2 linked regions of the Homo sapiens genome follow. The protein of the gene in region 1 interacts with the protein of each later gene in a pairwise test. Each region holds a gene or a part of one and is shown in the gene's direction. Other genes may lie near its edges.

Region 1 (7,508 bases):
ATTGTTAATCAAAGGCCACCCTCCCAGTGTACTGATCTTACACAAACTAAACAAAAACAGTCTTCATGTTGTTGTCTTTAGAAAACAAAATTTAACTTTCCCAGATTTGAAATGATCTTATTATTTAATGTATTAGTAAAACAGCACATATTACTATGTTACAAATGTGTTTTAATAACTGCATTTGAATGTAATTAGTACTCTTTGTAATAATATGTATTTTATTTTAAGCCTTAAAAACATTATTCTGGTAAGGAATCCATGGCATAAAAAAGTTAACAACTCTGATCTAAGGTAATGTAAAGTATAAAGCCTTCATTTATTCCTTCATTTCGTTATTCAGTCAGCAAGAATTTACTAAGTACCTACTATAATATTAGGTCAAACTATCTGCAATCGTCAGTATTTGACTGTTTCTGACCTACCAAAATGGCAGTTTCATATAGTTCAATCTAACATTTGTCAGGCCCAATCTGTAAACCCACTAATAAGAGAGACAGTAATGGAGTAAAAGAACAACCTTTAAAAAGGGAAAGACTGATACTTGCAGCAGAAGTTAAAAGTTTTATGAAATGGGTAAGAGGCAGCACACCGAAAGCAAAAAGTCAGAAGAAGGGAAAGTAACCAGAGGGAATTATCCATTTAATTATCCTGAACAAGAATGACCCAAATATACTTTCAAATCTCTATTAGTTTCTATGACCTAACAGTGATAAGAAACGTTTCCTCAAAGCTTTCTTAATGCTTCAACAATTTTTTTCAAATTACAAGTAATCTTGTATCTTACAAGAAGCCCACCATAAATTCAATATTAAAACCAGTAAAAATAATGCCTTACATTTGTATAGCACTTACAAAGTAATTTCACATACATTATGCTATTTGAGTCTAACCAGACCCCTACAAAATAGCCTGGGAGATATTATCTCTATTTTTCAGGTTACATAGCACACACATATCCAAAAGGACTCAGGGAGAATCTTAAAAATGAATTTTACCTTTAAACCAGATTCTCTCTTTACTCTGTGTCAAGCAATAATTAAAGGAGGCAAAAGAGCAAAGTGATCAAAATCCAGAAAAGCTAAGTCCAAATCTCAATGCATCACTTACTCTCTATGGGTCACTGAGGAAATTTCCTGATAAGACTGAGTTTAAAAAAGTGAAAATAATAACACCTTCAGATTTAAAAAGATATAAGATATAGATGAGATAAAGCCTTTATCGTCATCTGTAGTAGCTATATTTATCATTATCATTCTTTTTTTTTTTTTTGAGATGGAGGTTTGCTCTTGTTGCCCGGGCTGGAGTGCAATGGTGAGATCTCAGCTCACTGCAACCTCCACCTCCCAGGTTCAAGCCATTCTCCTGTCTCAGCCTCCCGAGTAGCTGAGATTACAGATACCCACCATCACGCCCAGCTAATTTCTGTTTTTTTAGTAGAGATGGGGTTTCACCATGTTGGCCAGGCTGGTCTTGAACTCCTGACCTCAGGTGATCCGCTCACCTCGGCTACCCAAAGTGCTGGGATTACAGGCATAAGCCAACACACCTAGCTATTATTCATTCTTATTGTGATGATCCAGTAATCATGAAATTGGACTCTTAACTAAAAGAACTCAGGAAAGCAGTGTGGGTCAATGGACACAACACAGGCTATAGAACTCTAATATCCTGCCTCAGAGTTACTATGGTAAGTTACCTGACCTCTCTATATTACCACCATTTTATCATTGTAAAGGCTTTTGAGAAAATTAGCAAACGTAACTAATGTTGTAGAGTTTGGACATGCTTTTCTTCAATACTTAAACATTTCAAAATCTTCTGTTGGGAGTTCTGAGCAAGAGTTCACCAAGAGCTACTACTTGCATTTTACAACATCTAGAGCTGATGTTCACTTATGGGCCCAGAAAGAGAGCCTTATCTCATTTCTCATAGCTGATAGGGACTGAGTAACAAGACCTTAAATGACATTATGGATAGAAGCTAAAACCAGAGTTAGATAATCCCCAAGGAATGACACTAGATAAAAGAGTACATAAGTAAAAGAGAAGAGTATATAGTAAAACAGTATATAAGAGTATATAAGTGAAAGAGTACAAAGCACAGGTTGAAAGCAGGCTTGCTATTACTTACTCTTGACTTATGACCTCCTCATCCTCTGAGGATGATGCTGTTTCCTCCAGGTCCCGGGCCATCACGATTGGCATTTCCTTTAGGGTTTGTCATGCAGTCAGCAGACGGGGGCCTCAGAGACCTTTCCTAGCAGATTCACTGGATCAAGCAATTTGGATGGCACAGATTCCTGCAAGAAATCAACTTGATTGGATCAATTGACCTGAAACACAATGCAGTTGTCTATTTATTGGTTATTGCTGATAATCTAAGTAATGAAAATGACTATATTCCTAAACAGTGCTCAACCTCTAGAAGTTTACTTTCCATAACATATGGAATGTGCCTCAATATGTGCCTCAATATGCCACAAAAATCAAGATTTTTTTCAAACATACAGTCTGTGCTCTATATATTTGAAGAGCTGTTACTAAGTTTGAGTTTCTCATTATTTACTAAATCGAATATGCACCAAAAGGATAGACTCCTCACTTTCACTCAGTTTGAGGCAGGTGACTGATTCCCTAAAACATATATTCCTTGCTAGACAAACCTGGCCTGGGTTAAAAATAAATAAATAAAAACTCAAGGTTTAAGACCCTTGCAGGCCGGGCAGGGTGGCTCACGCCTGTAATCCCAGTACTTTGGGAGGCCAAGGCGGGCGGATCACCTGAGGTCGGGAGTTCGAGACCAGCCTGACTAACATGGAGAAACCCCGTCTTTACTAAAAAAAAAAAAAAAAAATACAAAAAATTAGCCGGGTGTGCTGGCTCATGCCTGTAATCCCAGCTACTCGGGAGGCTGAGGGAGGAGAATCGCTTGAACCCGGGAGGCGGAGGTTGCGGTGAGCCAAGATCGCGCCATTGCACTCCAGCCTGGGCAACAAGAGTGAACTCCGTCTCAAAAAAAAAAAAACAACAAAAAACCCCTGCCAACATTTATTTAGACTCTATGACAAGCACGCTGACAAGATGCCATCATGTTTCCAGTAAAATAAATTCAACAATGAACCGAAAGATGAATATATTCTCTTGAATCAAAGGTCCATATAAATAGGTGGGGGAGGGGAGGAATGCCCTTCCACTCTTAAAAATTATTCTTCCTAAAAATCACAAAGTTTGGTACGACTCTCAAATAGACGATGAAATTAGGAAATTTCCAACACTGCATTTCTAACTTAAAATATTTTTTCTAAAGTAAAAAAGTACATGTTCGTTGTGTGTGTCAGAAGAAGAAATAGGAACTACAAATAAAAGAAACATGTTTAAATGACCATAATCCCAAATTACTCAGCGATAATTACTTGCTGTCAATCCTTCTTAACTTTTCCATGCATTCATAAATACGATGAGACTGTAAATAAGACAAAAAAAAAACAGACCCCGATAATGATCAAAGATCTTCGGCGCAATAGGCAATGTCTAACAACTTCAATGGCTTTCTTCAGGGGATTCTCAACGGGATTTCTTGATCTTTCCCAAAATGCTGGGAAGCCCTTTAAGTTTAAACAAACAAAACCTCCAAACGGGAAGGGATGCCAACCTCTCCTAGGCTGCCTGCAGAGCGGGGAGAAACAGGTCTATCGGAAGAAGAGTAGAGATACTCACCTAAGGAGACTCCTCTCCCGAAAGGAATCTGCTTCTCAGCCCCACCCCCAGCTCACCCCAATCCCACGTAGGTCCGCAGATGCTCCCCCCGGGAAGGACGGGACGACCCCGCAGCCGCGATTCAACGCGGCGCGCCCGGAAGCCAACAGCTACTCCCGGGCTCTGAGCGGGAAGTCCTGCTGCAGGCGCCAGCCCGGACCCGGGAATGCTCCTCCCTAGGGTAGGGAAGCGCGCGGGCGCAGGCGTTTACCTGTCTCATCTTCCCATGGTTCGGGGCGAGCAGGCGTGGACCGCGCTCTGCGCCTACCTCCCTCCTCCTTCCCCAGGAAGGCTCAGGGCAGCCGCCGACGGCTGCTTCCCCGGTTACTACAACAACCAACAAGCAACCGCCCGCTCGGAGCCACTGCGCAGGCGCTCATAACGCTCAGCTGCGGACGCGGGCGAATGTCGTCACCGCCGCGCAGCGCGGGCGCAGAGCCCTGCCCTCAGCTGAAGGGAGTCTTCTTTTTTTTTTTTTTTTCCGCTGTTTTTTTCTCCGCCCCTAAGAGGTTGACTCCAAACCCGGAGTTCCGCTAGGTCCAACAGGAGGGCTTACGGCGTGAGCGGCGTACCTGGGGAGAGGCTTAGGCAGCGGCAACCGCTGATTGGCAGTAAAGGGGTTCACTCCCCATCTCCTGCTCGGGCGAAACCGGGACAGCCAATCAGAGAGAGTACTGACGGAAACGGCCCAATCCTGGAGCAGGGCTGAGGGAGGGGGCGGGGACAAATGGCTCAGGTGGACTCCGGGCTGGAGCTGTCCTGGGGGAGCTTGTTTGCGGCAGCGGCTGCTGCTGCCACTGCTGTGCTGGGGGCCCGGTCGCCAGGTAAGGAGAATATGGGGGAGAAGAGGGATGTAGGTGTCTGTGTTGCTTCTGATTGAGAGGATCCGGAGAGTCTGGAAAAATGGAGGTGGGATGGAAGGAAGATAACTGGAAGGCAACCTTTTGGGGGGAAAAGGTTTCGAGAGGCGATGACAAGGGGGAGCTAGGAAGATGGAGAAGGCTTGGTGAATTCAAGGAACGAAGGAATGGATGAGCGAATGAGCAGCCACTATGAGCCTAGCACTGTACAAAGAGCCTTCACTTTTTGTCATATAATTCTTACAATAGCCCTTCGGGTTGATATTTCTATCTCCATTTTGCAGATGAGGAAACCGAGACTGAAAAGTGTAAATGACTTACCCAGGGTCACACAGCTACTAAGTGGTAGGGCCAGGATAAGAATCCCTTTCTCCTGATTAAGTTTTAACAGCACACCTATGCTGGGCTGGGCTTGGCTGGGCTGGGCCAGGGCCAGGACAAAATTTGGAAATAGATGTTGTATACACTCTAAGAGGCCCTTAAGCTTTAGGGAAATTAGGTTGAGAAATTGGCAGAGCAATTCAGAAGTGCTCAGGCTCTGTCCTCATCAGCTATCTGTTGGGATTTCTAACAGATAACACTTCTGTGAAATGGAAGGCATACTTGTGCAGAAAAGTGGAGAGGTGCATCCATGCAGCTTTTCTAAACCCCGGAGGAGTCTCCTCTTGAGAGAGAGTGAGAAAATAAAGAGGATGGGTGGATCTTGGCCCAAATGATAATGGCCTGTGATGTCCAGTAGACCCTCAGTCTCTCTGATCTTCGACAGAGACCACCTTTGTGATCCAGCTCTCCCTGAAGGGCTCATCAATTCACCCTTCCTTCTCTAGATCTCTTTATTGCTTGTTTGGGGCGGGGAGTTGGCGGGGGGGGGCGGCGGTGTTTCACACTGTCTTGGGCCATTGCTGACTTTAATATCTGTCCCACTGGGTAGCAGAGAACAATACCGAAACTTGTATTGCCAAAGTGACAAAGAAAGCCTGTTAGTTTATTACCACTTCAGGCCCAAGAGGTTAACCTGACAACAGATAAACCGTGGACCAAGAAAATAATAATGAGGATGGGAAAAAGTCATTCCATTATTAGATTATTTATCTATTTTGGTTTTATTTAAATCAGACTAACTGAAATTACTACTCAACAAGAGTTGAACTAAGCCTTAAAAAAAAAAAAAAAAAGGCTGGGTGCTGTAGCTCACACCTGTAATCCCAGCATTTGGGAGGCGAGGCCAAGGTGAGTGGATCAGTTGAGCCCAAGTGGAGAGGTTGAGGTAGGAGGATCACTTAAGCCTTTGATTTCAAGGCTGCAATGAGCCATGACTATGCCACTGCATTCCAGCCTGTGTGACAGAGCAAGACCCTGTCTCAAAAAAATAAATAAATAAATAATAAATTAAAAAACAAAAAGTATGTAATCTAATTGTATTTTCCATACAACTTGAAGACAAAAGTGGATATGGTATGCTTTTCTTTCTCAAAAAATGGGAACTTCATTAAAATAGTCTCAAACAATGAGGTAGCACTGCAGCAGTCCAGCAGACCATGATTCTTATCTCAGCTCTGCCAACTTTGCTGTGTGACCTTAAGAAACTTGTTTAACCTCTCTGTTCCAACCCTCATCTGTAAGATGGAAATATTAATAGTGCCTGCTTACCTCATTGTAAAGATTAAATGGTAATATATGTTAGGTGCTTGGCACAGTTCACGGTGTAAGTGCTCAATGACTGAAACCTATTATTTTCTTGCAACCCAACACCAAGATTGCTGTTTCCTTCGCTATATAATTTTCTTACTAGTCCTAAACTCACACGTTAACTTAAACACACACAATTTATAAATTTGGAAAAAAGGAAAAGAGGCTTTATCTCTTGCAAAGGGTTACAGCCACCCAACAGGGAAGAGTGCCTCCCACCAAGACCAGAGACAGTTACTTTGAAGGAGAAGGGTTTGGGGTAGAGCTTCATGCTGAACAGGTTTGCTAAACATACACATTCGACAGGTTACAGGAGGAGCTGTGAATATTCCTGAAGGTTGTCCTGACACATGCATATTGAACAAACATATGTAACCACATATGAACCCTGTTCACTTTGGAGTGGAGACCTAACATTTAAGTCTATCACACCTAGGCTCTATACGTCAAAAAGTCTTTTCAGGACACCAAGACACTCAAGTGTGTGATCCTGCTAAACTGGCCAGGAGCAGTCCACGGTTGGTGGTCTTATCTGGAGAAAATTACTGAAATCAGTCTCTTGTCCAATCAAAGCTGTAGTTACAACTGGTGGAACAGGGGTCAGGTAGTCAGCCTCTGTGAGCTGGATGAGCTGCAATTGTTTTAATATTGCTTATCTCAAGGCCAGTGTTCATCTAGCTGCTGGAGAAAAAAAAAACCTTGTGGCAGAATATAACTTTTATTCTTTAAATGTAGGAGTGTGTAACTTAACCCTTGCCTGGCATGGCCTTAGGTCTTGTTTATAATTTGGTATCTTATTGCACAAAGAATCTGTTGTGTCATTCTTATGATCTCTATTTTAACTTTAATGCTGGTAAGTTGCTGTCTCTAAACCTGAAAACACAACGAATATAACAGGGCATGTCAGACCTCCCATCTTGTCATGGCCAGGAGCTCAGTTTTAGGATTTTTCTGGGGTCCCCTAGGCCAAGAGGGGCTCTGTTCAGTCCGTGATGGGCTTAGGATTTTATTTGGAGTTGACACACAGCAGTTTATTTTTAACTTTTAGATTGTTCTTCTAGTTTATGGAGCATGGTATACCTGAGAACCAGAGTCCAGAAAACCTAGGGATGTAAATAGTGACCTCACACCATAAGTCCTACTCAAATTTATAAAGTTCCATACACTTGGAAGAATCCGTCATCAATAGCCAGGCAGGTGT
Region 2 (7,035 bases), on another chromosome or scaffold:
CCCTTGAACCTGGGAGGCGGAGGTTGCAGTGAGCTGAGATCGTGCCACTGCTCTCCAGCTTGGGTGACAGAGCGAGACTCCATTTCAAAAACAACAACAATAAAAGCCCAAAAACACAACAAAAAAGTAACATTATTATAACCGTTCTGTAAATGCCAAGCCGACTCATAGCAGCTTACCAAGGCACACAGATGGTAAGAGGAAAGGCTGAGATTTGAACCCAGGTCTCTCTAGTGCTAATGTCCATGCTCTTTCTATCTCATTGAACTGTTTGCTTTATACCATGGAGCTCCTCAGGCCATCTGGGCACTGCCCTTTGCTAGCAAAGGAGCTCCAAGCAACATGTTATTTCCCCTAGAGCCTGGCAGCGCTTAGATGTCCAGAGTGGGGACTCTAATCCTCTAAAGTCCAGCCTGTACCTTAGCCATTTGCTCAGAGACTCTAGTCACTTGAGGGTGAGCACATTTGAGAAACGGTGGGGTCTGTAAGAACAAAGAGTCTTAAGAGATCATGCTGGCTGGTTGTCTGGGGAAAGGAAAGATAGAAAAAACCCACAGATTTCTAGCAACATTGCTGAGGCAAACCGAAAACAGTCTAGGCTATTACCAGTTAGAAATGTTTGATAAAGAAAGCATCATTTTGGCCGGGCGCGGTGGCTCTCGTCTGTAATCCCAGCACTTTGGGAGGTCGAGGCAGGCAGATCATGAGGTCAGGAGATCGAGACATCCTGGTTAACATGGTGAAACCCTGTCTCTACTAAAACTACAAAAAATTAGCCGGGCATGGTGGCGGGTGCCTGTAGTCCCAGCTACTCAGGAGGCTGAGGCAGGAGAATGGCGTGAACCTGGGAGGCGGAGCTTGCAGTGAGCCGAGATCACGGCACTGCCCTCCAGCCTCGGCGACAGAGCGAGACTCCATCTCAAAAAAAAAAAAACAGAATAGAACAGAGAATGGAGGAGAGACAGTGTTCAGAGACAGAACGGCTGAGGGAGGGATGACTCTTCAGATTCAAGAAGCATAATATGCCCTGAGCAGGATGAATAAAATACATCTACACCTAAACACCAAGCATCTTTAAAGTGATAAATGGCAGCTACTAAGAGACCCTACAGCAAATATCATCTATGTGTTGAAACCTCAAGTGCCTGTAATATCAGGGACATATCAAGGAGACTGCCTCTCCCTGTTTCTATCAATATTGTGTTGGAAATCCTAGGTGAAGACCAAGTAAATACAAGGAAGAAAAAGACTTGGAAAGGAAGAAACTAAATTATCATTATCTATACCTACTATTTACATAGGATACCTAAGAGAATCTACAAAAATACTATTAGGACAAGGAAGAATATTCCACAAAATTGTTGATAGAAATCAAAATATAAAAATCACCTATATTCCAGCAACAAATTTAGTAACAAATTTAAATATTTAAAATATTAAAATGCTTTTAAAGTTACAATAGCAAGAAGTACTCCCCAGTTCCGGGGATAAATTTGACAAAAATATACAAGACATTTAAAGAAAAAGTTAGAAACCTTTACTGAAAGACTTTAAACGTAACTAGATGGAGAGTAAAACCTCACAATTGTAAACAATTTTCTCCCAAATTGATCTTCAAATTCAATGAAATCCCAATCAAAATGCCCATTAGATTTCTCAAAGAACTTAATAAGCTGATATTAAGTCACATGGAAGGCTAAGTAGCCAAAAATAGTCTTAACCAAGGGACAGCCAGATAATAAGTGTTTTAGGCTTTGCAGGCGCCATAGGTCCCTGTCATGTATTGTTCTTCTATTTGTTTGCAAACAACCATCCTTAGCTCTTAGGCCACAGTTTGCCCACCCTCGGTCTAAACCATTTCAAAGAAAGAGCAGTAAATTTGCAAGAGGTTGGTAGGATTTGTCTTATCGGAGATGAAGGTTTCCTTTGTTTTCTTTTTTTTTTTTTGAGACAGAGTCTCGCTCTGTTGCCCAGGCTGGAGTGCAGTGGCGCGATCTCGGCTCACTCCAAGCTCTGCCTCCCAGGTTCACGCCATTCTCCTGCCTCAGCCTCCCGAGTAGCTGGGACTACAGGCACCTGCCACCACGCCTGGCTAATTTTTTGTATTTTTTTAGTAGAGACGGGATTTCACCATGTTAGCCAGGATGGTCTCAATCTCCTGACCTCGTGATGCACCCGCCTTGGCCTCTCAAAGTGCTGGGATTACAGGTGTGAGCCACTGCGCCCAGCCAGATGAAGGTTTCTTACAGAGCTATCAGAATACAGAGTTTGTGATACTGCACAGGCATACGAAATGGACAAACAAAACAAAAAGCCACCAATCAGGTTAATGCATGTAGGAAAACCTGATATGTGAGAGAGATGACGTTACAGTGATTGAAGGAAGAATGAACTGCCCAGTAAGTGGTCTAGGGAAAATTCCTAATCTATATAGAAACAAAGAAAAACACAAAACAAAATTAGATTCCCCATCTCTCATACTAAACCAAAATAAATTATGAGGGGATTTAAACACAAAGTAAAATGTCAAACTTGAAAATTCCATTAAGGGAATATAAGAGACTCTCTTTATCACCATGCAATAGAGAGGATTTCCCAAATAAAATACAAAAGGCACAAATCCAAGAGGAAAAATAATTTTGATCACATTATATGTAAAGAATCAGCTGTTCATTAGAAGACTCCATAAGCAAAATTCCTAGACAAACAAGAGATTGGGAGAAATTGTCAAAACATGAAAGCATCAAAGGAAAATCAATGAGAAAAAGACAAAGATCTCAGAAGAACTGGAAAGCAGATGAACAAATTTCAGAAGCAGAAACCCAAATAGCCTGTAAACATGTGAAACAACTATAAAATATAATTTCACAGCTGTCATTTTGACCAACATTTTATTTTATTTTTGAGACATGGTCTCACTGTTGCCAGGCTGGAGTGCAGTGGTGCAATCATGGCCTCGACCTCCCAGGCTCAGGTGATCCTCCCACCTCAGCCTCCCAAGTAGCTGGGACTACAGGCACGTGCCACCATGCCAGGCTAGTTTTTTGTATTTTTTGTAGAGACAGGGTTTCACCATGTTGCCCAGGCTGGTCTTGAACTCCTGGGCTCAAGCAATTTTCCTGCCTTGGCCTCCCAAAGTGCTGGGATTAGAGGCATGAGCCTTGGCCAACATAATAATCTAACTAAATGCTGAAGACAACCTGGATAAATGAGAAGCTATACACTCCTGGTGGGTGTTCGTGTACATATATGGGGGAAATGATTATTTTAATCTGCAGAAAAGGTTGTTTTTCTCTTGAGAAACACAGCAGAAGGAAATGCAGAGCTGTTCTGTAGATCCTTGCTCCTGTGCCCTGCTCCTTCCCCATCTTGTGTTCCCACGCTGGGCACTGAAGCTCTGATTCCCTTTCCCTGTGTCCTCTATAGGTCTGACTACCTTGCCATCCCATCTGAGAACAAGGAGAACTCTGCGGTACCAGTGGAGGAATAGAACAGGAGCAGTGTGACATGAGGTGACCTACAGGAACATGGGAGGGGAAGGCAGATGTGGATGGCAGGTTGTACAAGTGACTTTGTTGCCCACAACTGAAGTGACTTTAAATTTGGTCCCTTAGGTCACTGTCTACCCTGCCTGGGGTCCCCGCCCTCAGGGTAATTCTTTAAGTCAGAAAGCTCTGTATGATGTCAGCGCTTCGGAAGGTGAACTGCTTTGACCTGAGTGTCGAGGCAATCTGAACTTGCCCATGGTAACAGAGGCACAGGATTCTCCAACTCCCTTCTTTGGTCAAAGAATTTTTGGGCTGGGCTGGGCTGGACTGGGTGGGAAATTCTCAGTGAGTTATTTTATCTTTGGTAGGTGGCCTGAACACCTGAGGGACTGGACATCCCATGTTCAGCAATGTCAATGGCATCAGGAGGGCGCCCCAAGGGCCCCATCGCTTCCCTTCATGCATCCATTGTTCTGTTCATTCATTCATCCATACATCCACCTGCCTCTGAGCTTTCACCTCTGACTCCCTAACTCCATCAGACCTCTACGCACCATAAGACTCTGCCAGAACTGAGAAGCCAACATTTCTACATAGACTCAACCTCACCCTCTCCTAGTTTTCCAACAAGACACTCCAAAGCCAACTGGATTTCTCCCCTGTGCTCCAAATGACTTTGTACAAGTGCTGGAGTTAGCACCTCCCTCTGCCCTTAACTGGCTGGAACTGGTTCATTCTCCATTACTGCAAGAGAATGGAAGTCTTAATAGAAGGAAGCAGGAGTGATTAGTTCGGGTTAAAGCAAAAGTGTGTCATGAACTTGGATTCCCTGAAGTCAGTTTTGTCAGGTTCATGGCCCACTTTGCTACAGCATCAGAGTGAAGCACGCCTGTCTAGGTTCTCCAGTGACAGAAAGATCCTGAAGCATGGACTAACATGCTCTCTGGAGCTTAGTACTCCAGAGCTAGATCCTGATGGGTCTCTAAGGTTCCCTCCAAGAAGACAAGGACAGGAGACTTGGGAAGGACCAATGGTAATTTAAGTGGCTCTTAAAAAGTCATGCAACATGTTTCTGGACACGTTCCTGATCCTATTGCGATAATGTATGTGTGCCCTCCCTGTGGGCACACCACCTGGGCATTAGGACTGAAATTCCTGAGTTCTTCCTCTCAAAATTTCTGTGCACCAGTATTATTCCTCATTTTACATACAGGAGGCAACTAAGACTCATACAGGGCTCAACTGAATAAGAGGCTTAAGAGGATAAACTGGAGCAGAAATAAGCCTTAGGTGCTGCCCAGTTTACACTTCCTGGGATGGATGTTTTTGTTTGTTTTGTTTTTTGTTTTTTTTGTTTGAGATGGAGTCTCACTCTGTCACCTAGGCTAGAGTGCAGTGGTGTGATCTCGGCTCACTGCAACCTCTGCCTCTTGGGTTCAAGCAATTCTCATGCCTCGGCCTCTCCAGTAGCTGGGATTACAGGTGTGCACCACCACGCCTGGCTAAATTTTGTATTTTTAGTACAGACAGGGTTTGACTATGTTGGCCAGGCTAGTCTTGAACTCCTGACCTCAAATGACCCACCCACCTCAGCCTCCCAAAGTGCTGAGATTACAGGCGTGAGGCACTGCGCCCGGTGGATAACTTTGTTTCTGAAAAGACTGACATTGAACTTGTCTATGGCAATGCTTCTTTCACAAGCACGGACTGGGCTGAGGTCAACTCTGATAGATTCAGATGACTAGAAATTGGCCAAAAAAGCAGGGAGAAGAACATGAGGTAGACTTAAAGAACTTCCTTTATGTAAAGATCTGTGACTCTGAAATATCCTCCAAAAGGAGAGTGCATCTGAGACTGATATTTAAACTAAGAAAAATGTTTAGTCTGAGATGGATCATAAGTAAATGAGCAGTGTGAGAGGGGAGGGATGGGTAGGTGCTTTCCAAATACTTCGCCTATGAATGCATAATTTTCAGATTTTTTTCCCCTAGATTTTGAGGGAGCAGAGAAACTGGAAAAAACTTTAGTCAATATCTCGTGTTTCATTTTAATTAAGTGACAGGTCCAAGTGTGACATCCTTCAGCACCCAGGGACAAGAGAGGGGAAAGATGCTTTATGGAATGTAAGAAGATGAAGGTGACTGGGATTCAGCGAGAGAGAGGTCCCTCAGACCTGGGACCTCCCTTTATAGGGAAAGACCATATTCCATAGGTTTAGGGCTTTACCTTAAAAGCTCATTTTTTTCATTCTTCCATCCCTAGGAAAGTACTTAAAACCAGACTTTTAAATTTTTATTTATTTATTATTATTTTTTTGAGACAGATTCTCACTCTGTCTCCCAGGCTAGAGTGCAGTGGTGCAATCTCAGCTCACTGCAGCCTCAACTGCCCCAGGTTTAAGCAATCCTCCCACCTCAGCCCCCAGGTAACTGGGACTACAGGCATGCACCACCATGCCTGGCTAATTTTTGTATTTTATGTAGAGACAGGGGTCTTGCCATGTCGCCCAGGCTGATCTTGAACTCCTGGGCTCAAGCAATCTGCCAGCCTCAGCCTCTCAAAGTGCTGGGATTACAGGCCTGAGCAACTGTGCCTGGCCCAAAACCAGACCGTTAACACATTAAAGAGTCTGATTTTGTTGAAGAAAATATTTGCAATAAATTCAAGACTCTTCTTATTGGTAATTTTCCACACAATCCCTCTGAAATAAGGGAGAGGATATAGACCTTTTTAACTTTATAGTTAGAAAAATTGGCCTCAGTGTGAAATTTTTCCAGTCCCATAGCTCATGGATGCCACCAGCTTGCGGTAGTAGCAAGATGCTTACTACCACACCGTTTTCCTCGGTGGCCCAATAGCTCGTGTATCTAAGTTGAACCCGGCAGTATGCATGATTGCCTTTTTCTCTTCTTTTTAAAAAAACCCAACTCAGATGCTGCTTGCGTGGCTTTTAATGAAGCTGAATGGTATCTATCACTTATTTATCCTTGACAGGTTATCTTCCCCACTCTTCCTTTTTCTAACTTCTCCATTCTTCTCATTCTTGACACTTTCATTAGAACTATATGGTTTACGAAGTATTTTCACTTAACTATTTTATTTCTTCTCTATAACTGGTCCTGTGAGGTCACATTACAAAAGAAGAAACTGAGGGTCTCTGAGGTTAAGTAGCTTTACTAAATTATAAGGAAACCTAGCTGGTAGGTAGACAGCAAGAATCCAGGTCTTCTGACTCCTCTTTCAGTTCTCTTTCCACTTAGACCATAGCTGCTTCCTTTTCTTATTTTTTAGCTTCCATCTAACCATTGCCTATCTTGCCTGTCCTAATGTTCTCCATCTTCTCTCACCCCTAATCCCACTCACTGCTTCTCTACCACTTTGCTTTTTGGTGGATGCTAGCAATGTGCTTTGAGAGTCAGTCCTATTTTGGTTCTCTTTCTAGTTGGTTTGTACATCATTATTTCTCCTGAATTGCAATTAAACTCCTTCCTGGGAGATTTGATAATGACTGTAAATCAATAAGGTACTGTGATCACCAGCCTACTTC

What was found. The genes of interacting proteins can lie anywhere in the genome.
Region 2: the proteins of ERG28 (region 1) and SCN3B interact in binary tests that used the Homo sapiens proteins (3 or more experiments, as listed by UniProt).

Annotation. Positions count from the first base shown.
Region 1 is NC_000014.9:75,657,849-75,665,356, reverse strand, and holds the start of ERG28 (ergosterol biosynthetic protein 28 homolog), read left to right. Parts: upstream 1-4,480; 5' UTR 4,481-4,582; intron 4,583-7,508. Other genes in the region: tubulin polyglutamylase TTLL5, read right to left, coding at 2,134-2,207.
Region 2 is NC_000011.10:123,630,598-123,637,632, reverse strand, and holds part of SCN3B (sodium channel regulatory subunit beta-3 precursor), read left to right. Parts: intron 1-3,426; coding exon 3,427-3,490; 3' UTR 3,491-3,512; intron 3,513-3,856; 3' UTR 3,857-7,035. UniProt on the Homo sapiens protein: Regulatory subunit of multiple voltage-gated sodium (Nav) channels directly mediating the depolarization of excitable membranes.